Homo sapiens: one gene and its partners. The protein of the gene in region 2 interacts with the protein of the main gene of each other region in a biochemical or structural test. Each region holds a gene or a part of one and is shown on either strand. Other genes may lie near its edges.

The links.
Region 1: the proteins of DLG1 (region 2) and VANGL2 interact in a surface display test, tested with the Homo sapiens proteins (one large-scale study listed by IntAct).
Region 3: the proteins of DLG1 (region 2) and PLEKHG7 interact in a test that uses a peptide from one of them, tested with the Homo sapiens proteins (one large-scale study listed by IntAct).
Region 4: the proteins of DLG1 (region 2) and ADGRA1 interact in a test that uses a peptide from one of them, tested with the Homo sapiens proteins (one large-scale study listed by IntAct).
Region 5: the proteins of DLG1 (region 2) and SCN4A interact in a test that uses a peptide from one of them, tested with the Homo sapiens proteins (one large-scale study listed by IntAct).
Region 6: the proteins of DLG1 (region 2) and MTMR1 interact in a test that uses a peptide from one of them, tested with the Homo sapiens proteins (2 studies listed by IntAct, with this or other methods).
Region 7: the proteins of DLG1 (region 2) and DUSP5 interact in a test that uses a peptide from one of them, tested with the Homo sapiens proteins (one large-scale study listed by IntAct).

The regions. Positions count from the first base shown.
Region 1 is NC_000001.11:160,414,064-160,417,563, reverse strand, and holds part of VANGL2 (vang-like protein 2), read right to left. Parts: intron 1,917-3,500; 5' UTR 1,727-1,916; coding exon 1,656-1,726; intron 1,503-1,655; coding exon 1,382-1,502; intron 1-1,381. UniProt on the Homo sapiens protein: Involved in the control of early morphogenesis and patterning of both axial midline structures and the development of neural plate. Plays a role in the regulation of planar cell polarity, particularly in the orientation of stereociliary bundles in the cochlea.
Region 2 is NC_000003.12:197,043,613-197,047,112, forward strand, and holds part of DLG1 (disks large homolog 1), read right to left. Parts: intron 1,118-3,500; coding exon 1,011-1,117; 3' UTR 1-1,010. UniProt on the Homo sapiens protein: Essential multidomain scaffolding protein required for normal development. Recruits channels, receptors and signaling molecules to discrete plasma membrane domains in polarized cells.
Region 3 is NC_000012.12:92,737,489-92,740,988, reverse strand, and holds part of PLEKHG7 (pleckstrin homology domain-containing family G member 7), read right to left. Parts: coding exon 3,468-3,500; intron 137-3,467; coding exon 41-136; intron 1-40.
Region 4 is NC_000010.11:133,094,424-133,097,923, reverse strand, and holds part of ADGRA1 (adhesion G protein-coupled receptor A1), read right to left. Parts: intron 951-3,500; coding exon 823-950; intron 1-822.
Region 5 is NC_000017.11:63,962,919-63,966,418, forward strand, and holds part of SCN4A (sodium channel protein type 4 subunit alpha), read right to left. Parts: intron 3,326-3,500; coding exon 3,184-3,325; intron 1,760-3,183; coding exon 1,550-1,759; intron 1,291-1,549; exon of another isoform or gene 1,166-1,290; intron 908-1,165; coding exon 754-907; intron 397-753; exon of another isoform or gene 347-396; intron 1-346. UniProt on the Homo sapiens protein: Pore-forming subunit of Nav1.4, a voltage-gated sodium (Nav) channel that directly mediates the depolarizing phase of action potentials in excitable membranes.
Region 6 is NC_000023.11:150,724,396-150,727,895, reverse strand, and holds part of MTMR1 (phosphatidylinositol-3-phosphate phosphatase MTMR1), read right to left. Parts: intron 682-3,500; coding exon 587-681; intron 213-586; coding exon 105-212; intron 1-104. UniProt on the Homo sapiens protein: Lipid phosphatase that specifically dephosphorylates the D-3 position of phosphatidylinositol 3-phosphate, generating phosphatidylinositol. Could also dephosphorylate phosphatidylinositol 3,5-bisphosphate to produce phosphatidylinositol 5-phosphate.
Region 7 is NC_000010.11:110,504,407-110,507,906, reverse strand, and holds part of DUSP5 (dual specificity protein phosphatase 5), read right to left. Parts: intron 973-3,500; coding exon 753-972; intron 1-752. UniProt on the Homo sapiens protein: Dual specificity protein phosphatase; active with phosphotyrosine, phosphoserine and phosphothreonine residues. The highest relative activity is toward ERK1.

The DNA of each region.
Region 1 (3,500 bases), on a different chromosome or scaffold from region 2:
GCCACTCTGGGTCTCTGGTCTGCAAGGCCACCTCTGCTGGGCCATCTAAATGTCTACAGTGCAGAGGCTACCTGTCTCTGGAGGCAAGAAGGTGGCCAGGCTGAGGTCCCCAGGTGTCCCTCTAAGTGTGGTCTGCTCAAGCTGTTTCTCTGCAGTGGCTGGAGGCCATCCCACGGAGGAGTCCCAAGACCACCAGCTGCCTTCAGCACCCACCCTTCGCTCCTGGGACAGCCTGGGGATATGGAATCACAACCTGACACCCAGGAGGTTGAGGTTACAGGATGAAGGCAGCCCGACAGCACCAGTGATTAGGGAGGTTGAGGAACCTCCTCTCTACAGGATGGGGAACGAGTCTGATGTGAAGATAGAAAGCAGATGCACTGACTGCCTTCAGCTCAAAGCCCTGGGTCTGCTCCCCGCCCTCTGACCCCTAGACATACTGCCCACCCCCTCCAAGGACCAAGGGCTTGGGATCTCCTCCCCAGTAGCAGGTGAGCTGGTCATGTCTCAGGGTCACTTCAAGAACTCAGGAGGCCAGGCCCCAGGAAGAAGGGATTGGGAGAGAGGGAAAAAGAACATTTCCTTCAGGTATTGACCTGCTCCCAAGGCCCAGGAATTCCCAATGTCAGCCACAGAGATTTCTTCTGAGGAAAAAGGAGCTGGGAATCTCCAGCCCCCAAAGATGATCCCAAGGGGAATGAGACTTGGGCAACCTCAGTGTCACCTAAAATCCTGCCTCTGCCCTATTCCAGGACTGTGTTCTGCCCACTGTCCTCCCTACCAGGTGAGCACAGTGGGCAGCAGAGGTTAGAATAGAAAACCTGCTCACCCCTGTCCTGGAGAACTCTCTCCTGGGGTCCCTGCTCCATCCCTCAGCCTTACTTCTTGTCCCTTGGGCTTTCTCCATCTACTCTTCCCATACTCCTTTCCCAAGATCTAGGTGACGCCATTCTACAGGCTGACACCAGAGGGCACAGAGTGCCCACATCTCGAGGCTCCAGGAATACTCAGCTTTGCTCACACATACCCCAGGCCCAGCCACCACCACCACCCTCCTGCTCCAGACTCCCAGCGGGCCTGACTGGCTGGCGGCAGCTCCAGAGGAGCTGGCCAATTCCCATCATACAGCCCAGGTCACCCCCCACTCCTCTGGAGATAAGGAAGGAGAGGCTGCTGCTTCCAGAGGGATCTCTATACTGAAATTCCTGAAGGTCCTACCTTAAGACACTAAGCCAAGCTAAGTGTAACACAAAACACACTCCCCGATCTGATGGCTGTCTGAGACCAGGTTTCCAAGCCCTCCCCCACTCCGTGGAGCCTCCAGCCCCTCAGGAGCAGTCTGAAAATGCCCGGTCTGGACCACCGCATCCCCAGTGCTCACCCGCTCATCCCCTCGTGTGGACTCATTGTCCAGCAGGGGCTCCCCGGGAGCCTGGATTGTCACCGACTTGTCCCCTCGGCCCCCATCTCGACTCTTAGAGCGGTGTCGGTCCCGGCGGTCCCTGCGGCAGGAAGCCAGAAAAGGCACAGAAAGTCCAGTGGTGGACCAGGGTCTTCTCAGCAGCCACTCTACCCTACCACCCCTGCACGTGCCCACCTCTTAACAGCCCCCAACCCTCCCTCCGCCACGCATGTCACCCTGCATGCCTGCCCACCTGTGCTTGCGGGAGCTGCGGGAGTGGCCCGACTTGTAGGAATAGCCCGAGTACTGGGACTCGGTGTCCATGGCGTCTGAACGCCGCGCCTTGTAGCGCTCCAGGGCCGCAGGCTGGGGCCTCTTGGGGGGCCCCACAGCCACCTCCTTCAGCACCGGCTTCTTTAGGCCAAGAGGCACCTTCAGGAAGTCAACTGTCACCCTGAGGGACTCTATTTTGCTGGACGGGTGGGCTTGTCTCAGAGAAAATCCAGCGACGCTCCTGGTGAGAGGAAGAAGCTAGTTAGAGGCGGCTCGAGCTCCCTGTGGGGTCAGGGCAGAGGAAGACCATCTGCACACAACAGCCACAGGAGGCTCAAATGAGCCCAGCCATAGCCTGAGAATATCTCCACCCAGGTTCCTGCTGTCCACTGGGCCCAGTTCCTCCTACCCTTCTCTAGAAAGAGCCCTGCCAGGCTGTGCCAAGGACTCAGGCATGGGGGAAGATGGCCAGCAAAGGCTCCCAGGGCAGGAAGGCTCACCCAGAATGACCCAACCCCAAGCCCTCTGGAAGGGAGGAGCAGGGCATTGCTTCCCTATTCTCAGCCAGGGAAACCGAGGCATGAAGAGGGCAGGTTCTGGCCAGGCCAACAGGCTGAATCAGTGGACACCTCAGAGAGCAGAAAGGAGCGGGCTTCTGTCCAGGGGCTACCCCAGGCCTCTTCTCCCCATGCTACACCTCCTCCCCTCACTCATACTTTCTGAGTGTGCCCACAGTGGGCTGCTTCCCTTGATACCATCTCCCCAGCATTTACTTCAAACACACCCAGTGTTACCGGTAAGATCAGGCTGGCAGCTTCCTTGAGGTTGCCACACATATGCACAGCCCCAGGTGAGGGTGAGGGGTGGAAACTATGGATAATATGGTAGGGGATGGGAGGAGAAGACAAGTTTCTACTTGCCTGAAGTTCTGAAACAGGCAAGGCACAAGTTTATCTGCCTATTTATAGGCTTATCTTCAACCATACTTCACCTTCTGATTCTGCAGAGGAGAATGACCTCTCCTCTCTCTAACCCCCACCCAAATCCTGCTCATTCTTCAGAGCCCGGCCCCACCCCCTCATAGGAGCCCCCACCTACTCTAGACCCAATGTTATCTTCCCTGCTGACCCTGACTCCCCTAACAGCCATCACCATCCACCGAGCGCTTACTTCCTATCTTCAGTCATTGACGCATCAAATCTTGTTTGAGCACCTTCTATGAACCATGTATTCTGCTAGGTATAAAGTGGTATAACAGACCCTGAGTTTACAGTCTAGCAGGGAAGGGGCACACCAAACAAGTAAGCAGATAAGTATAAACGACCGATTGCAGGCATGATGGAAGGGCAGAACAGCAAACTATGAGAGACACCCATGGAGTAAGGGCTACCACTTTAAACTTAGCGGTTCTAGAAAGTCTGAGAAAAGGACACCTCAGCAGAGGCCTGAAGAAGAAATAGGAATTAACCAAGCAAAGAGTGCAGGAAAATGCCCATGGAGCAGAGGAATCACATGTGTGAAGGCCAAAGGCAGGAAAGAGCTTGTTGTATTTAAAGAACCAACAAAGGCCAGTGGAGCTAGAGTTGAGGAAGAGAGTGGGTGGTAGAAGGTGGCACTGCAGAGACAGCCAGGCACCAGGTGAAGAGCTTGAGCTTTATTTTATTCTAAGGCCACAGGAAAACTTTGAAGGATTTTAGCTATGCAGATATGGATTGAAAAGAGGGAAAAATAGAAACAGGGAGATCAATAAGGAGGCGACTGCAGTAGTACAGGCTTGCTAAGGGTAGAGCCACAGAAGAGTGAGTAACAGTCATGTTTGAGACTT
Region 2 (3,500 bases):
AGAAAATAATTCCCATAGTTACAGTTTAAAGAAAGTTTTATATATATATTTATATATATTTTATTATAACAAAATAGGCAGCTATTGTGGGTAAAATATTCAGTAAAATCTGACTCCTAAGAATACATTTGAAGTTTTAGGCTATGAATTGGACTCCTTTCCATTGCCATGATGGTTACTACGTCACCACTGTAACGTCTGATTTATCTGTATTTATATCTAGGAAATTTTCTCAATCTTCTGTGTAAAAGGCGAACTTCCTTAGCACCTGAACATGGCCTCAATTCACGAAATGTGATGATCATTTACATATGAACAACTTTTGTAAGACACGATAGTGTTGCTCAAGTAGATTAAAAACATTGAAACGTTGTTATTCCTAGCAAATGTCCTGGGAAAAAAGAACCGTCAAATACTAAAAGGCTTTAAGAATGTTGAGGAAAAAATGAAATCCCTTATGAAAGTCAACTCAGACATGAATTTTTAAATTAAAAAATGTCCTTATTTATCTATAATGAAACAATTGCTTTGATGATAGAAGTTGATTGAGAAAAGGACTTGAGAGTAATACACTGGCCAAACCATGCTATTAAACTGAAGCGTGCACAGTTGCTCAAAGTCTACTAAATCACTGATTAAAACCACTTTTTCATTTGTACTGAAATTTGAAAAGAATGTATATAAAGCTTTTCCAAAAATCTCTTAAAGTTACTTTCCCTTAAACATTAAGGAATTTTACCACAATTTCTGCGTCTCCCCACGTTCTTAATAGCTGGTCAGGCCATTCCATCTTCAGTTCTGAAAAATGGCCACTAACCAATAGTGACATTAAATAATACACACGATGTAACTTGAAGGAGACACTACATGTGAAAAAGAAGCTGCAGACCATGATGTGTGGGATACAATTCAACATGAAATCAGTACTCAAGAAAGACTCCAGAGGAAAGGGCAAAGAGATGCCAAAGAAAATGGAATTGTGGAAAAGAGAAACAGAGAAACATGAGTTTTCATAGCTTTTCTTTTGCCGGAACCCAGATGTAAGAACCAGATTGTTCTTCTATGATCTGTTTCACTTGGTTGTAAATGTCTTCCAGCGTATCCCCCTGTACAATAGCTGTAATGATAGAAACAAAATCAGAAATCTCCATTAATTGTCTATTTTTGCCATTACAATTATTGATGAAATAGTAGAAGCTAGTATCTTTGAAAAAGTTACTCATCCAGGAAGAATCACCATTTACACACTGTTCACTTAGGAAAAAAGGCTCACTTCATTAATTTTCCTATTTATATAGTATAAAATTTTTATCTTAAAAATGGATCAAAAAGTAAGACTTGGAGATCTTTTCTTTTGTTCTTTTACCATCTGAGCATATATTAGCTTTATTATTTTAAAACAAATTATTTTCTTAACTTTCCTGATTTCTCCATAAACATATGTAGAAAAAAGGAAACTGGGTACAATCCCATAGACAGGATGATGTAAGGATAATTTTTTTTTTTTTTGGGGTAGGATCTTGGGGGAAAAGAGCTGATTACAGATTGATACTACTTTTTTCAGTTAAGCTAGCATGTCAGGTACTGTAGTGTAGGTGAATTGAGAGATACCTAAGCTAGCTTGTTAGTGGTTAGAGACTTAACAATCAATGTTTATTTGCTGTCTGAAATAATGTGTGAAAAAAAGAGTAACAATTACTAACAACTAATTCTTTGGGAATAGCTGAAGCCCCTGAGGTCTGTGAGGGATTAGTTAATAAAGCAAACAAACAAACAAAAACAAAGTATCGCTAGACAGCACTAAGCATGAGTAACTAACTTTTTAAGAAAGAAAGAAAATGTTTATGGTTGGGCATGGTGGCTCATGCCTGCAATCCTAGCACTTTGGGAGGCTGAAGTGGGAGGGTTGCTTGAGGCTAGGAGTTTGAGATCAGCCTGGGGAACATAGTGAGACCCTGTGTATTTAAAAAAAAAAAAAAATAGCTGGGCATGGTGGTGTGTGTCTGTAATCCTGGCTACTTGGGAGGCTGAGACAGGAGGATGATCTCTTGAGCCCAGGAGTTCACAACTGCAGTGAGCTATGATCGTACCATTGGATTGTACCATTTGCCTGGGTGACAGAGTGGAACCTTGTGTCTCGTAAAAAAGTTTACATATAAATGAAATAATTGAGAATTGCAAATTAAATAAGTCACTTACTAAACTACAAAAAAATGCCCAGTGATCTTGGAAGAGCATCATAGGTGTAGATTTCCATGGTCTGAAAAACTGAGCATAAAATGTCAAAGGGGGATTTTAAATAATACTGTCTATTTGGTACCTGAGATGATGTGCATAGAAGAAAGACGTTGTATGTAGGTAGGAAGCACTTATACATAGCTAGGAACGCCTGAATAACCAAGAATTTTCAGTAACATGATATTCGCTAGTATCAGTTTTGTGAGACTTCTACCTTTTGAGCTAAATGCAGACATGCCTCAATGTCCCTGAAGACTCAGTTCATTTGACAAAATACTTGGTTCGTGGGTTTGGCATCTTGATGCACCCCAACAGCACAGGACAGAATCCCAGAGCATTTCATAGTTTAGGTTGACAACAGCACGCAAGGATTTATTTTAGAGCATTTCATAGTTTAGGTTGACAACAGCACGCAAGGATTTATTTTAGGAGAAAACAGTCAGGAACTGACTTGGGAAATATACATTTTGCTTACTTTGTAAATTCATTAATGGAATGGTTAGTAAACCAGGGAAACTGGGAAAGCATAAGGCTGCAGACACCTTAACCATGTGATTAAAATTAGCATCATAAGTAACGGCACAAGTAGACTTTGTAAACCTCCTTGCATGATACACAGAGGACACATCATTACTTCATTGCTATTCCTGCCCCAAATGCAGAACCTAAATCGAATTATGAGAAAACATCAGATAAATCCAAATTGAGGGAGGGACATTTTATAAAAGAATGGGTCTTTGGCCGGGTGCAGTGGCTCACGCCTGTAGTCCCACCACTTTGGGAGGTCAAGGTGAAGGTGGGCGGATTGGATGAGTTTGAGACCAGCCTGGGCAACATGGCGAAATCCTGTCTCTACAAAAAATACAAAAATTAGCTGGGCATGTTGGCTGTAGCCTGTAGTCCCAGCTCCTTGGGAGGCTGAGGTGGGAGGATCACTTGAGCCTGGGAGGTGGAGGTTCCAGTGAACTGAGATCGCACCATTGCACTCCAGCCTGGGTGACAGAGTGAGACCCTGGCTCAAAAAAAAACAAAAGACAAAAAACAAAACGAAACAAAAAACAAAACGAAACAAAAAACAACAAAAAATCCCCCCTAGTGTTTTTACTCTTAAAAAATGTCAGTCAGGGTCATGAATAACAAGACTTGGGAACGATTTCAGATTAAAGAACATTAAGGATGTGATAATCCAATACAGCACGTGAGCCTCCGCTGGATCCTGCACCAGAACAGAAAAACCATTTTTTTCCATTTTGCTCTAAAGA
Region 3 (3,500 bases), on a different chromosome or scaffold from region 2:
CTAGTGAATGTTAAAACATGAATCTTCCTACTTGGCTCACCTGAGTTAACTCCTCCAGGTTTGCAAAAAGTCTCCATAAATCCACATCTAGGAGATATTCATGAGTTTGCAGATATCTTAGTGTATTCATAAAGATCTTTGAAATAAAAAATATATACACATTAATTTCTGTTTTTTAATTTTGCAACATGCCTTTTGCAAGAACTTTAAACATAAACCTCCTGGGTGTAACTTTACAAAACAATGGAGAAATCAGCACTCTCAAGGTTTAAATGTTATACTCAAGACAAATGGTCACATTTAAGCTTCAAAGAACATATTGGAAATGAGCTTTTCAGTATGAAAGTTGTGGTTGCTTATGTGAATTCTAACAACATTCCTATTGAACATAATCTGTCCAAATGGGCTTCCTCTACTTCTAGTGCCAAAGAAATCCCAAAGATTCTCTTCTTGCCAACAACACTACTAACTTGAGAGCAAAACAATATTCATGGTGTATTCTCATATGCTCTTTCTTCTGCAAAAGACCCAAATATACTTTACTTTCAGGGAATTAAAAGTAGATATTTAATGAGTTAATCTCTGATAACTGGTAAAATGTTTCAGTTTGTTTAGAGGCATTAAACATGGATGAAAACATTGAGGGAGTTTTTATGTTATTTTCACTTAATTTGATGATTTCACAAATTGGAGAACTATACAGCAAGTCAAAAAAAAGTACAATCCTCACTTACAGATAGCCTGCCCTTCATTCTATAAACTGAAGAGAGATCAATTTATTGAAAAAGAAATACTTTGTATACATAAGACAGGAAGCATTCAAAGGGACAAAAGGACAAATTATTTCAAGAATTTTAGGGGTTAAAAGACTGGGCTTTAGATAGATAACCTTCTCCAATTCCTATTCCTGTATTATTTCATTAGTGTAATGAGTGGTTCTTGAACTTGCATCGGAATCACCTGGCAACTTTGTTACACCAGAGCTTGCTGGGCCCCCACCCTCATCTGTGACGGGGTCTGAGAACATGCATTTCCAACAAGTCACCAAGGGATTCTGATGCTGCTGGTCTAGAGGCCACCTGTCAAGAACCACTTAGACCTTTTAAAATCCATGGAGTATTGGTTGTCTGGAAATTTGTCAATATCCAAGCATTTAAAACATGATTGTAAGAAACAGAACTCATTACTACAGATAGATTAGGACAATTTGGAAGAAATACTACTTTTGCTATAAGATTCTTTGCTTTACAGAAATTTTGCTATTTAAAAAAAATACTGAGTCTTCCAGTATATTTATTATATGAGTTACAAATTTTTAATTCATAAGCACTTTTGGAAAACATATTGATTGTGTAAAAGGAAGGTACATATATACTTTAAATACACTGAGGTATTTGACAGTGAGCTCAAATTGGCCTTTTCTTAAACAGGAAATGTCAGTTTGAAAAGCTTGGACAGCTTACAGTGGGATAGAAAGTTCTGTGCAGTTTCTTAGGACAAGGAAGGTGGCATAACTCAGGGGCTTCGTTCTCTGCGGTGAACATTTATTGTTACCACCCCCTGCAATACTCCCCTTCCCTAAAAACAGCATGGTTTTCACCTCAGTGTCTACTCTTCCCCAGGCTGCACATGTGCCATGTGGCAAGCTGATCTCATTCCCAGGGGTGGGCCTTGACTGCCTTAAGCCAATTGGCACATTCCTTCTTTACAGAGCTAGAGGATTTGGCTCACGGGTGGGCACGTGATCTAAGCCAGTCCAATCAGAATAAATCTCAAGACTTCTGCTATGAATGCTGAGAAGATCTCTCTCTCTCTCTGGCCATTAGCTCAAGGATAGCAACCAGGCTGTGACTACAAGAGAAGCCAGCCATAGGATGTGGCTAATGCCATGGAAGGCAGGGTGAGAGATGGGAAGAAATGTTGTTTTGTTTTGTTTTGTTTTGTTTTGAGCCCTTGATCAAACATGCCTTGAATTCTCTCCCACCTCTGAACTTTGCAGTCACATGGACTAATAAAATCCTGTATTATTTAAGCTAGTTTTCTATTACGTGCTCTTGTAAGCATCCTAACTGATATTGTCTCTAAATTTCAGTTTTCTCCTAGAGTGTCTTTGCGGTTCACATTTTGCTAAGTTAAGGATTTAGCACTGTGATTGACAAAAAATATTACTTACAGAAAATAACTGACATTTGTATAGCACTTGATAGATTTCAAAGAAAACTAATTTGATCATCATAATGGTCTTATGAGATAGCCAGGGATGGTATTGTCATTTCTCTTTTACAGCTTAGGACAAGGACTGTCAAAGTATGCAGCCTGTGAGCTTAATCTGGCCTGCCACCTGTTTTTGTAAATGATGTTTTCTGGGTGACAGTCATGCACATTCCTTTAGGCTGCTTTTGTACTGCAATGGCAGAGTTAAGTGGTTGCAACAAAAACTATATAGCCTGAAAAGCCCAAAATATTTACTGTCTGCACCTCTGCAGAAAAGATTTGTCAACCCCTGGTTTAGGGTATGAAGGACTAGACTTTTCTAAGGTCACAAGGCAAAACAGAGGCAGAGCCAGGGCTTGAACTCAGATCTGCCAGCACAGTGCCTTTTGGCTGTGTAAGACAGTCACCAGGATGCAAAAGTGCGGTGGGCAGAGGCAACCTTGGGAGCTGTGTGGCCCATCCTCCCCTGTGGTCCTGGGAGGAAGCTGCTCTATGGTTCTCTTCCTTGCTCTATTGTTCTTCTAGAAAAAATTCTGTGTTCTGAGCCTCACCAGAGCATGGCTGCGACCATAGGGGTGCTATTTACATGAAAGACATCATGAATATACCATGTAATTCAACAGTACTAAATTGCATGTGGGTGGTAGCCCCCTATATCTGCAATGGTGGCCCTGCAGCTGATAAAAAGCATTCACCTGGTACTGTTCACGAGGGAGCAAGAGCTCCGAGAGAGAAAGCCGAGCAAAGATGCAATGGACTGCCTGAGAAGGGTGTAAGCTCCCTGGCTCAGGAGTGTGCAAACTGGTGAGACAAGGCAGAAGAGATTCATTCAACATCGGATGGGACACTGGACTAGTTCACTTAGACGATCTCATCCAATGTTAAAGTATAAAGAGACAGTAGAGTAATAGGTAAACAAAAATAAATGACAAATAAAAATTTTCACGATCCCCTGAAAGAGGGAGAAAAAAGCCTCACCTGGCCTCCCGTTCCCTCTCTTTCCCTTCCTTCCTTCCTTCCTTCCTCCCTCCCTCCCTTCCTCCCTCCTTCCTTCCCTCCCTCTTCTTCTCTTTCTCTCTTTTTCTTTTCTTGTCTTCCTTCCTTTCCTTCCTTCCTTTCTTTCTCTTTGTCTCTCTTTCTCTTTCTTTCTTTTCTCTCTTTCTTTTCTTTATTTCTTTCAGAAGAGGAAAACAAGTGCCCAAAAAAACAAATTAATATTTTCCATCTACTACAAAAATTAAGCCTGGCATTACCATCTTAAGAACTAATAAATGGTCCAAAAAATA
Region 4 (3,500 bases), on a different chromosome or scaffold from region 2:
GATCAGGGACCTTGAGAAAGAGGCCCCCAGAGTGCCTCACCCTCCACATGCAGGGACACAGGCAGGGACACAGGCAGTGGGTGCCGTCTGTGAGCCTGGAGCTGGCCCTCTCCAGACGCACCAGACACAGCGTCATGGGTGCCTTGATCTGGGACCTCGGCCTCCAGAACTGAGAAGTCAGTTTCTCCTGTCGATAAACCATCGAGGCCCCCGTGTTCTGCTGCAGCAGCCCAAACAGACCAAGATGACAGTTTCGGAACCGCCCAAGCCTCTTCCTGTGATCACAGCCTCGTGTGTGCCCGAGTCTCTGATGAGACTGTGGCCCTGGGCGCCTCTAAGCTCTGTCCGTGACCGAGGCGACCTTGGCCTCAGACATAGCCGAACCCCCGCCCATGACTGGCTGTGGGCATGCCCACCCTGACTGCGGCTGGACACCCTCATGTTCTTGGTGCCTCTCCCAGGCTCTGCAGGCCATAGTGACTGCCCGGGGGAACTGAGCTCCTCAGGGTGCCTGGACGGACACCACACCTATTTCTGGAAGAACTTATTTTGCCCAGTTAAGGACACGGGGGATGCCGTGGAGAAGACCCTGACGGAGGCCTGAGTGGACAGGCGCGGCTTCCCTGAGCTCCATCCACCCTTCGGCTGTGTGATGGGCACCAGGCTGCTGAGCGGGTCTGAGCTAGCTGGTGACCTGAGTTGTACCTTCAAGGACTTCTTGCTACATGAGGGGGCAGTGGCATTGCCCTTCAGGGACTTGCCTTTGAAGGTAAAAGCAGGTTTCTTGGGCACAGGGGGCGCCCTTGCCCATGCCAGGCTCACCTCTGGTGCACGATGTAGGTGACGAAGGAGGCCAGGAGGCAGAGCAGCATGACGGCCGTGCACGCGTACACCACGGGGTGCAGGAACTCCCCTGGGTAGCGGGGCAGGGAGAGCACTGTCTTCAGATCCTGAGGATAAAGCAAAGGAGACGTGTGTGACTGGCTGGTGGGTCTGTGTGGGCGGCGCCGTCGCCTGAGCCTACCCTTGGGGCTCGGCTTCCCCTGCAGCCGCTCCAGGCATTTTCGTGTGGGGTCTCAGGGAAGGGGGGCTGCCTGGGGAGGTACGGTCAGGCTGCGTCTGTGGATGCTCAGGGAGTGCACGGGAGGGGCCCCACGTGGCCACGGAGTGCTGTCTGTCCTCGCCCTCCACTGGCTCTGCTGGCCAAAGGCATCCTTGTGTGGCTCTGAGGCTGGCTCCTGGGGCCATGTATCGGCCGACTGATGCCTGCCTCCAGCCTCCTCTCTTCCCGTGGCCTGCGGGTGGCCAGGTGGGATCTGGATGGGCCTTACAGAGAGGCAGGGAAACCATGGGATGGCCCCAGCCCTGCACTGGGAGCCCCACACTCATCGAAACCCTGCTTGTCAACATCTTCCGGGAGGATTCTGTACGAGCTTCTGCGAGAGGTGGAGAAAGAGTGGAGACTGTTCGGCACCAACAGACCTGGACCGGAGGCCGCAAACTCCACCTGCTTCTCGGCCCAAGAAAAGGGTTCAGGGTCAGAGTTCAAAGGGGAATGTGTGTTCTCTGTGGCAGAGTAGACTGGGGGAAAATCGACCCAGCTGGAAAGGCTTGGAGCTGATGGAGCTTCATCTTTTCTTCATCAGGTGAGTGAGGTGAGCTCACCGGGGAAGCACAGAGGGGTGCACAGGCTGGGGAGGGGGCTTCAGGGGCATCAGCCCAGAAACATGCGTGCACAGGCCCAGGAGGGGGCCTCGGGGCACCAGCCTGCACTCAGCTCTGTCTCAGGCTTCCAGCCTCCAGACTGTGGGAAACATGTCTGTGCTTCAGGGCCCCACTGTGTAGGGTTTAGTTATGAACCTCAGGCAGGCGAGCAGGGTGGGTGCCATGTTCCGGTAAGAACCCTGTGGGTGGGTGCCAGCAGGGGTGAGGGCTGCAGCCGCCTGGCCCCTCCCCAGCCCCCTGGTGATCGCTGCACCTGTGCCAGGCTCCAGCCACTCTGACCACGCCATGGATGCTGCCCTGGGCATCGGGGCAGGAGGAGGCAGCCGGCCGGGCCTCTGGGATGGCTCCGGCTGAGTGAGGCGGGAAGTGGAGAGGGACCCTCCTGTGCAGGAAGGGCCATGGGCAGAGGCAGTGTCACCTGTGTCGGGATGCAGGCAGCCAGCGGGCCCGAGAGCTCCTGCTTCCCTCCTGAGGCCACACTTCTTGTCCGTCCAGCCAAGACGAGGCCCTGGCTGGCTAGAGAGTGTCCACCGTGGACAGAGGGTGCTCTGGGGAGCCAAGGGACTGGCTGACAGTCAAAGCCCGAAATAGGGCCCCTGCCCCAGGGTTCGAACAGCACTGGCCAGGCGGGCACCGGAGGGGCCCTGCATCCCGGGACGAGGAGCCTGGACCTGTGCGAGGGCGAAGGCACCTGGGAGAGGAGCGGGCGTCGCTGTGGGGCCGCAGAGCTGGAGTGACAGCAGACACTTTGCTTTCCGGGGAGTGTTTAGAATCTGCCCATTTCTTCCTGGACACCAGGACCCCACAGAGAGACAGCGCCCTGTGGTTCAGGCTTGGCTCTGAGGCCCACCCTGGACAGAGGCCCCTGAGGGTTTTCGGGGGAGTCAGGGCCCAGGAGAGCCCCACCCTCACTCTGCCCCTCTGTAAAGAGGTGAGCTGGGTGGGCCTCTGTCCAGATTCTCCTGAGTGCCCCAGAGCCCGAAGCGTCAGTTGCCTCCTGCAACAGTCGTGGGGTGAGTGTCCGGTCCGAGCTCCAGCTGGGGCTCCTGCTTCCCCCAGAGATCAGCCCAGGGACAGCCCGGCCAACTGTGGACATTCGCACGTCCCTCCTTGGTGTTCTGGCTACTGGAGTGCTTGCCATCAGGAGACGATGCATGGGGGCTCTGGCGTGGCTCGGGCGGTGCCAGGCTGGTTGTCCCACGTTTGCTGGTTTAGTAGGCGCCCACTTCCTGCCACGTGCAAACAGCTCCAAAGTCACAGAAAAGCATGTTTTCCCGGCCAAATCCCGACATCAGGTTATCCAGTGAGTTATCTGCTGCTGGGAGGTGGAGAATGCCCCATGTGGGTAGAAGAACTGAAGTTTTAACAGGGCGTGAGCGACGCCCCAGATTCTTGTCCCCAGGATTCTTCCACGAGAGTCAATGGCTTTTCCTCCAAGACATTGACCCAGGGTCTAAAATAAACCTGAACGCTCTACACAGTTCCGACGAGCCATTGTTGCAAACCCAGATCCGCGAGAGAAGCCAAGAGAGTGGGGTCCACTCTGTGTCCAGCCCTCTCCGAGTCTATCGGAGCATTTCCTCAGTGAGTCGCCTGGAACAAGGACTTCGTTCTCATCTGTTGTGTTGAAGAGCCTGGGGTGGTCTGCCCCGGGCCCTCACGCGTCCTCTCACGGCCTCCCTGGGGCTGCTGTGGCCGCCGCGCCTTCCTGCAGGACTCAGACTCCTGCTCAGCTACGGGGGCGAGGGGCGGTGCCACTGTGGGCGGAGGCGCAG
Region 5 (3,500 bases), on a different chromosome or scaffold from region 2:
AGAGATCTGCAAAGTCCTGCAGGGCCCCCAACTCCCTGGCACAAGGCAAGCCGACCTGGGGAGGGAACCACATCTCTGTGTGTCAGAATTCCTTTTCTCTATTGTCCCTTTTTCCTGTGCTTCCTCCTTCCCTCCTGCCTCCCTACTTCCCTCCCTCTCATCCATCCATCCATCCATCCATCCGTCCGTCCATCCATCTGTCCATCCATCTGTCGTGTCGTGTCTATTCACCCTCTCTCATCATGACATCCTTATTCTTCTGAGATTCAGCATGTGGCACAGGGATTGGGGAGTCTGTCACTCTGTTTGGGCAGAATTTGACTTTTGGCCTTTAACTTTTACCCAGAGAACACTTGAGGAGCAGGATGTCCAGTTTCCGGAACATTGGGCCTTCTGGTTAGTATTATTAGCCTGTGCTTCCCATTGGGCAGTCCCCAAGGCCCTCCCGGAAGCCCCCAGTTCCCATAGCAGCCTGGCCTTGCAGCTAGAACTGGGCCAGGTTAAGACAGGACTATATTTGTGACAGCCAGAAATGGCTGTGATAAATATAGTATAAATATAGCCATTTCTTCTATGCCAATATTAAGTTACTGTCCTGAAGCTGGTCCAGCCAGGCCCCACCCTGACCTCAGGGGCCTGAATGGGTAGAGGGGGCACAGGGCACTCACCTTCCATGGCATCCCTATCCTCCTGAATCCAGTCCAGCCAGGCTCCACCCCTACCTAAGTGGGCACGGGGGCACAAGGCACTCACCTTCCATGGCGTCGGAGATGCCGCTGTCTCCGCTGCTGCTCTGCCTCGGGGCTCCCTTCTCCCCTTGCGATGTGTCCAGGCTGCCATTGCAGTCTTTGCCATGGGCTGGGTCCCCATCTGCCTCCCCACCTTCCAGAGCTTGGGCGGCCTTGGCCTGTAGACCAGCAAGAGTGACTGGCAGGAAGTCCAGCTCTGAGCCAGAGGGATGGACTAATTGACCCTCAGAGCTTCTTCCAGAGTCCTTCAGGGTGGCAGCCCCTCTTCCTGGCCTGTGTCAAACTTAGTGCAGGTGGGGGAGGGACCAACCTCCATGGTGGTGGGGGTGACAGGGTAGGGACCAAAGTGACTAAAGACCCTCTGCCCTGAAGACCCTTGACTCTGATGCCCTGACTAACCCTCCACTTGTTGACAGAATGAGAAACTGGTCAGCCGCTCCCTGTGGCCTCATCAGGACCTGCCCTTCCCTCAGTATGGACCTATCCACTACCCAGAAAGCATCACAAAATCAGAAATATTTGAGCTGGAAGAATACTTCAGGTTTAGCTACTCCAGATTCCTTGTTATAGACAGGGAAACTGAGGCACAGAGCAGAGAAATGCTTTTTCTACTGCTTGGATCCCTCCATCCCCCTGCCACCAGCAAAGCTCCCAGCCCAGGGCCTTCTGCTCCTTCTGCCTCAAAACCCCTACCCCTGTACCCTCCCTCACCCTCGGCCCCCCAGGGAGAAGCCAGTGGCAGCCCCGGCTGAGGGCAGGTAGAACCCTGGGTCCTCTATCTCCTTTCCCTGAGTCCAGACCTTCTCCAGCTCCTCCTGGTGCTTTTTGAACTTCTCAAGCATCTGCTGAAACTCCTCCTCTTTCTCCTTATCCTCGGCCAGGGTGGCCTCATTCTGCTCGGCATATGCCATGGCCACCACGGCCAGGATCAGATTGATGAGGTAGAAAGAGCCCAGGAAGATGATGACCACGAAGAAGATCATGTAGGTCTTGCCAGCTGCTCGAAGGGTCTGGGAGTGGAGGGAGAGGGAGTGGAGGGGTCCCATGACGTCCACCTCCTTTGACCCAGTGCCCCTTTCCATACATCCATTGCCCGCATGGGTAAGCAGAGCCCCTCCCTCACAGAGCCTGGGGGACTGATGGCCGTCATTGGCATGCTGAGCCATGTTCTGGGGAACTTCAAAATATCTACTTGGGACTCAAACGTTTCTGGTCTCCTGGCTCAGAGGAGGACCGAAGCCAGGCATCCTGTTATCAGAGAGCCAGGATAGAAAATTGGTGAACATGGGTTTGGGGTCAGCTTGAATTCTAGCTTTGCCACAGTGCCTGGCACCTAGTAAGAACTCAACAAATAGTAGCTATTATTATTATTTAATCAATTTATTTATTTATTTTTAGACGTAGTCTCACTCTGTTGCCCAGGCTGGAGTGCAGCGGTGTGATCTCGGCTCACTGCAACCTCCACCTCCCAGGTTGAAGTGATTCTCCTTCCTCAGTCTCCTGAGTAGCTGGGATTACAGGTGTTTGCCACCAAACCTGGCTAATTTTTGTATTTTTTGTAGAGATGGGTTTCGCCATGCTGGCCAGGCTGGTCTCAAACTTCTGACCTCAAGTGATCTGCCTGCCTCGGCCTCCCATAGTGCTAGGATTATAGGCATGAGCCACTGCACCCAGCCAGTAGCTGTTATTATTTTTGTTATTGTTATCAACACCATCAATGTTAGAAACATCACATGGCATCAGAAGGCACTGTCACTCCAGGCTCAGCCTGCCTTCCCTGCAAACAGTAGAAGGCAAATAAAGTATGGGCAACATCGAATTTCTGTCTTTCTTTTTTTTCAGACGGAGTCTCGCTCTGTCGCCCAGGCTGGAGTGCAATGGCGTGGTCTCGGCTCACTGCCACCTCCGCCTCCCGGGTTCAAGCAATTCTCCCTCCTCAGCCTCCTGAGTAGCTGGGAATATAGGCCCGTGCCACCATACCCGGCTAATTTTTGTATTTTTAGTAGAGATGGGGTTTCACTATGTTGGCCAGGCTGGTCTCGAACTCCTGACCTCGTGATCCGCCCACCTCTGCCTCCCAAAGTGCTGGGATTTCAGGCGTGAGCCACCGCGCCCGGCAGGCAGCATTGGATTTCTAAGCTGCCCTACTGGCTATCATGAGGCCTAGGGGGTCCTGGGCTTGTGCCTATGCTAGGTCCAGACCTTGGCTCTGAAAGCAAAGGTGTGGAAAGAATTAAAGCTGTGGCTTGGCTCGGGGCAGGTGTCTAGTTTCAGAGAGCACAAGCTCCTATAAGGGCACTGCGGGAGTCCATGAGGAGATGGCCCAGTTCGGGGGTTGGCCATCCTGTGGTAGGCCCCATCAGGCCCTGAAGAGGCTGCAGGGATGGAGGGGGAGTGGCTGTAGGGTTGGGGGGCAGGGTGGGGGCAGCTGTACCAGCTGGAAGAGGTTCTCCCAATAGTCCTGTGTCATGAGGCGGAAGAGAGCCAAGAAGGCCCAGCTGAAGGTGTCATAGCTGGTGTAGCCATAGTTGGGGTTCCGCCCGGTCTTGATGCACTCATAACCCTCAGGGCAGTGCCTAGGAATAGGACAGGGGGCTGGGTTTAGGGTGGGAGGAGCACTCCAGCTGGGGGCAGATAGGGACCCCAAGGGAAAAATTCCGTCAGTTCTGCCTGTGTCCCCCAAACAGAAAAGTATTCCATCCATGCCCACAGGTTTCCCTGCACTCCCATGCCCCCCAGGTCCTCATCTCT
Region 6 (3,500 bases), on a different chromosome or scaffold from region 2:
CAGTACAAATTATTCTACTGTCCAAAGACCATGAAGAGACTGAGGGAGAAAAAGTTCAGAGCTGATTGCCCTCTTTTAGTTTTCACTTGGCGTTTCTATTATACCTTGCACACTATCTCTATACCACAGGAATTGTCTCCATGGCTCTGTGCTCCAATCTTCTCCACTCTGCTGATCACTCCAAGGGGAACATCAAGGATAAAATGCGGGTCCTAGGTTCAAAAATTAAGATCAATGCCTATTAGTGTCAGTCAACAGTTTTCATATTTTAAGTCTTTGCTGGGTTACAAAACATGTTTGTTTACTTCGCATTTCCTCTTTGTCCCAGCTAAATTGAAGTCTGATTGACAGCATTCCTTGTGAAATATATATTGAGACAACAATGGAATTTCCCCTCCAGGTTTAAGCGGTACTTTAACAGCCTTTGTTTTCAAGATACAAACATCTGTTTGCAAATGTGTGCATCTCAAAATCCAACCTGTGGTTATCTCAGGGTAATGGGATTTCAGGGGACTTTTTACTTTCTTCTTTTAGTGTTCTTTTAAAAGTGTTTCTTTTAAAATAAAACACACTTTAAAAAACTCACCCTCTCGACATTTTTGAAGTACAGCTTAAAGTCCGTCACTGTCAGGGTTCCACTCACTGCTCCCATAAATGGGCAGATATACATGACATCTTTCACTGAAAGAAAAAGGCCAAAGTAGCAACTACTGCCATAGACTTGTGCTTCCATAAAACTTAACACGAGTTTTCCAAATATATATTTGTGATTCCAGTTTTCCAGGAATTTTGTATTTTATAGGATTATATCAATTATGACTTTCAATATAGAGAGATGCATAGTCTTCTAATAAATTTCAATTTTTTAAAACAAAATTCTGATTTGCTACTTAATGAGGTTTTAAGTAAAGGGCCTCATAAGAAGTTATATTCTGTCATTTTTCCTAGGTAGTTAACATTTTCCCTGGGTGATAAATTAATCATATTCAAAACATTAATTAAACTCTGAAAACCCTGGGCTACTGTTTCATGAATTACTGCTACTTAAAACTAATGAAAACTAAAGATTGTCTCCTAATGCATCTCCAAAGGAAACTCTTTTTACAGAAGACAAAACCTAGAACCACATCAATGAAATGGAAAAAGACTTATTTCAAATTCCTTATCCCCTTATCAGTTTTAATTTTTTGTCAATATCTATTAAGTGCGTGACATATTTAATTCCCATTAGTGTTAAGAAGCTCACTTCTATCACAAAGATACCACATCTTCATGTTTTCCCAAAGTGCCATTCCACTGGAATGACAAGAATATACATAGCTATATATGAGTCCAAGTGAGACAACAAAAGGCATTAACGTCATTGAACCAAATTCTCAGAATACTTCCATTGAACTTTTCTATACTCCTTATGTACTGAGAGCCTTCTATTGCTGGGATTCTGGGTATAATTGGAAGAAGTTCCTGTCCATGAGCAGCCCATGACCTGTGAGAGATACCACACAGAAAAATCGCCATTATACTAGAGCAGAGGTCCCCAACCTTTTCGGCACCAGGGACTGGTTTCATGGAAGACAACTGTTCCATGGACCAGGGCAGAGGTAGGGGGATGGTTTCAGGATGAAACTGTTTCACCTCAGATTATCAGGCATTAGACCCTCATAAGGAACATACAACCTAGATTCCTCACATGCGCAATTCACAACAGGGTTCACGCTCCTGTGAGAATCTAATGCCACCGCTGATCCGACAGGAGACGGAGCTCAGGCGATAATGCTCACTAGCCCGCTGCTCACCTCCTGCTGTGCAGCCCCGTTCCTAACAGGCCATGGACCAGTGCTGATCCACGGCCCATGGGTTGGGGATCCCTGCACTAGAGGTTGACAAAAGCTAAAATAACAATGTGGACACAAAGTATTACAATGGAAGTTCAGAAAAGGATCAACTTAACTCAATAGGAAAGTGGGTAGGGGGAGTAAGAGAAGGAAGGGAGGAAGGGCACAGTGATAAGTTGTTAGAGGTTAGTATGCCTGGATCAATGGGTGCAGTGAGGACAGTCGAATATGAGGCCAGAGAAGTTGGCAGGGAGTGGATTGGCAAGTGCTTCTGTAGGAGACTAAGGCATTATTATCATTATCCTTAAAAGATAACTGTTTAAACAAAAACAAAAACAATATATTGTGGGGTTTATAACATATGTAAAAGTAAAATGGATGACAACAACAGCATAAAGGGTAGGAGGGGACAAATGGGAGTATACTACTATAAGGTTCTTATCCTGTACATGAAGCAGCATACAATCATTTGAAGGTAGACATAAAGATGTAAAATAACTAGTTACATAACAAAACAAACAATTATAGCTAATATGCAATCACAGGACATAAAATAGAATTCTAAAAAGTAAAAACCCCATAGTCTCGACCCAAAAGCTCCTTCAGCTGATAAACAACTTTGATAAAGTTTCAGGATACAAAATCAGCATACAAAAATCACTAGCATTCCTATACACTAACAACAGCCAGGCCAACAGCCAAATCAGGAATGCAATCCCATTCACAATAGCCACAAAAAGAATAAAATACCTAGGAATATGGCTACCCAGGGAGGTGAAAGATCTGTACAATGAGAATTACAAAATACTGCTCGAAGAAATTAGAGATGACATAAACAAATGGAAACACATTCCATGCTCATGGATAGGAACAATCAATATCGTGAAAATGGCCATACTGCCCAAAGCAATTTATAGATTCAATGCCATTCCTATCAAACTACCAATGACATTCCCAGAACTAGAAAAAAACTATTTAAAAATTCATATGGAACCAAAAAGAATAGCCAAGGCAATCCTAAGCAAAAAGAACAAAGCTGGAGGCATCATGTTACCAGACTTCAAACTATACTACAGGCCCACAGTAACCAAAACAGCATGGTACTGGTACAAAAACAGACACACATAGACAAGTGGAACAGAATAGAGCGCCCAGAAATAAGGGTGCACACCTACAACCCTCTGATCTTCAACAAAAGCAAGCAATAGGGAAAGAATTCCTTATTCAACAAATGGTGCTGGGATAATTAGCTAGCTATATGCAGATGACTGAAACTGGATCCCTTCCTTACACCATATACAAAAATCAATTCAAGATGGATTAGAGACCTAAATGTATAACCCAAATCTGTAAAAACCCTGGAAGACAACCTAGGCAGTACCATTCTGGACATAGGAACTGGCAAAGATTTCATGATAAAGATGCCAAAAGCAATCACAATAAAAGCAAAAGTTGACAAATGGAATCTAATGAAACTAAAGAGCTTCCGCACAGCAAAAGAAACTATCAACAAAGTAAACAGCCTACAGAATGGGAGAAAATATTTGCAAACTATGCATCTGACAAAGGTCTAATATCCAGCATCTATAAGGAATTTAACAAATTTACAAGAAAAAACACAAACAACCCCATTAAAAAGTGGGCAAAGGACAAGAATAGATACTT
Region 7 (3,500 bases), on a different chromosome or scaffold from region 2:
AAGTCAGGCCAGCCTCCTAGGAAGATGGATGGGGGAGGAGAAGATGCCAAATGGGAGAACAATCCAGGCAACACAGAGGACCTGGAAACCCTAAGGCCACAGCCCTTTCCTGGCAGAGGGACCAGAGGCCAAGGCCTCGGTTTTCAGGTCTATGCAATGGAATAAATAACTGCGTAACAAGAATGCAGAAAGCAGGCAAAAGATGCCAACTTTTCTGTGCATACAGCATGGAGCTTGAGTCAAGTGCTATCTTTAATCCAAAATTAGCTGAAAATGCAAAACAAATTGCCCCAAGCCGTTCACCAAGAGTATGGAAAGCTGCTGGGGGCCCTTGGGGCTCAGTGCGTAAGTAGTGCTCTCTGAATCCTTCTGTTTGCTTTTAAAAATAAACCCAACCTACGTAGAAGCACAGTTAGGGAGGTTCTTCCCCCTGCTTTCCTTGTGTGGAGCATTACGCAGGGATACACTCAGCTCCTGCCCAGCTAGAAACAATAACAAGATCGACAGTGAGTACTGCCATAAAATTATATTAATTCATTTATCTTGCAAATTAAAGCTCCTATTCATAGCAACTTAAATCCTCCCTTCCACCTTTTTGGTAGCTGCATCCCATGTTGGCTCCAACTCTCAGCAGCGGCATATACAAGACACTTTTCTTTCAGTGAAGGTAGCTTCCATCAGGGCATCAAAAGTCAAGAACACATGCCCCAAAGGGGCTCCCAAAATAACTGAAGGGGAATGGCTAAACCTACCAATGAAGTCTATTGCTTCTTGAAAGTGGGAGCTAATGTCAGCCGTGTGGCTGTCTTCCACAGGGATCCATTTGTAGTGTAGGTGGGTCGCGCAGGCCTCGGAGGTCCGTCGGGAGACATTCAGCAGGGCTGTGATGTGCAGGTTGGCGAGGAACTCGCACTTGGATGCATGGTAGGCACTTCCAAGGTAGAGGAAGGGAAGGATTTCAACTGGGCCACCCTGGATGCAGGGACAAAGGACAATCAGGAAATATTGGATTAGCTTGTTCATTTGAGAGAGGAAAAAACAACTCCGACCTATTTGTTTCTTAAGATGGGTGGTTCCCTTTCTGGTTTCCAAGTGGAGTTCAGAGCCAGGGCAGTTCAACCAAGTGTGGTTGTATCTCCATCCTGGCCAACTCTCTACCTTATGTGACTGCCTTGTGACTCAATGACAGCAAAATCCACACAGCAAAGAGTTCACTTTTTTGCACATATCCAGGAGGCAGGATATGCCGACAGCCTTCCTGCGCTGACAAGGATGAGAAGCCATGTGGTAATATGGGAAAAATTGACAGGCCTGTGTTGAAGTTACAGCTGCCCTGAGAGTACCAGGGCAATCTCCTATGCCTTGGGACAGTCTTGCTTTCTTTACAGATAAAATGGACCAGGACTCAACATGGTGTGTGTCCTCCTTTACAGCCTTGACATTTTACATAGTGTATTTTTTTTTTCCTTTTTGGAAAGACAGAGTCTTGCTCCGTCACCCAGGCTGCAGTGCAGCGGCACAATCATAGCTCACTGTAATCTTGAATTCCTACGCTGAAGAGATCCTACCGTCTCAGTCTCCCGAGTAGCTGGGCCTACAGGCATGTACCACCATGCCTGGCTAATTTTATAATTTTTTTGGTAGAGATGAGTTCTTGCTATGTTGCCCAGAATGGTCTTCAACTCCTGGCCTCAAGCGATCTTCCTACCTCAGCCTCCTGAAGTGCTGGGATTATAGGCATGAGCTACCAAGCCTAGCCTATATGGTGTATTTCATCAAACCTAAGACACTGTTGATCCTAAGATGCACCCAGGTTTTAGAGATGTTAAAATGCACCTCCACCTCCACAAAAAAGTATGCTTTTTAGAAATGAAAATAACCACTACCTACTCAGAATCTTTAGATAAAAAATGTTGTCAGGCCACAAGCAGAGGGGCTTCCCCGCCTCTGACCTTCTTCACACGGGGGTTTGTTGAAGGTGCTGGTGAGACCCGCTTACAGAGCCATCCTTTTGGGAGGCTACCCACACCCCAGATTTCTAGTCAAGGGGGAACCAGAGACCATCCACCTTGAGGCAAAACTAAAATGAACCGCTGGTTAGACTCTGGCAGTCACAGCATTTACAGGGCTCTGAAGGTGGCAGAAAAGCTAGTGATGGTTGGAAAAATGGGAGCCCTTAGAGACTGAGAGGGAAACAAGGGGCTGGGTGACAGTGGCTGTGTCTTTGGGAGCCTTTCCCATGCCAACCATCTGCTTCCTGTGTTTCCATTTCCTGCCCTGGAATAAGAACGGAATGGAAACTCTCAGCCAGATCCCTAACAGGGAAGGGTGCGTGGGACAGGGGCCAGCCACAGGCAATTCTCAATTTACCCCACACCCGGAGTTAGCTTTTTGTTTCCTGAGAAGTCAAGTGTTTAAGCAAAGGCCAGTTCAGTCACTTGAAAGAAAATTACACAAGATTTTACATACGGTAATAACAACTGGTATTTTTATCAGCATCTACTATGGCTGGCCTCTGGGGGCTTAACCCTTTAGATGTGCCTACATCATACCAATTTCACAAAATCTGTGAGGTAGGTAACATTATTCCCATTTTACGGATGGGCAACTTGAGGCTCAGATGCATTTAATAACTTGTCCAAGTCAGAGCTAGTCAGTGGTAGAGCTGGGCTGAAACCCAAAACTGATTGCGTAGCATGAGATGCAAGGCCTTGTCTGACTCCATTTCAATAGTGATCAATATGAGAAAGTAAGTATTTCAGGTAAAGACAGGAAGGAAAAAATTCCCTCTTTCCTCTCTTCCTCTAGAGATAAAATGTCCATCTGCATCACCTCCTCGAAACCTCCCAAACTTCCATGCGTACAGAGCAGCCTTCCTGGTGGCAAAGTGGTGCAGTGGTTAACAACCTGGGCTTGGGCGTCAGACAGCGGAGCTCTTGGTTAAGTTCCAGAGCTCCATGCTTACTACCTGATGTGATCTTGGATAGCTTCTTTAATCTATGACCCTTTGTCTCTAAACTGGGGATAATACCTATCCTCTCTGGATAATTGGTAAGGTGTAAATGGGATAATGAATGCATTAAAACCTGGCACGTCACATAGCTGCCACTGTCATAGAGATTGAAGAATGAACAGAACATGGCTTCTCTCCATGGGGAAGACACAGGTTTTTAGGCAATCCAAGCAGGTCTAGTCCTGACCTGAGTTGGACCCACTCCCTGGGCACAGCATCCCCACCAGCTAGAAACCAGGAAAACAGCAGAGGTGGTACAAAGTTCTTTGGAAAGGAGTCAGAGTTCCAAGTCCAGATTCACGTGGCCACTGATGACTTATGGGTCCCCACCAATGGACACTAACAGGCTCGCCCTTTAAGGAGCAGGCTGGATGGTTGACTCAAGATCTCTTCCTCTCCTGAGTGCCTGGAAATTGCTGATACACCAGACCTGGGATCCTATCCAGTTTCTTTTGGAGCTCAGCCCAACACACCCCTGAAACTACAT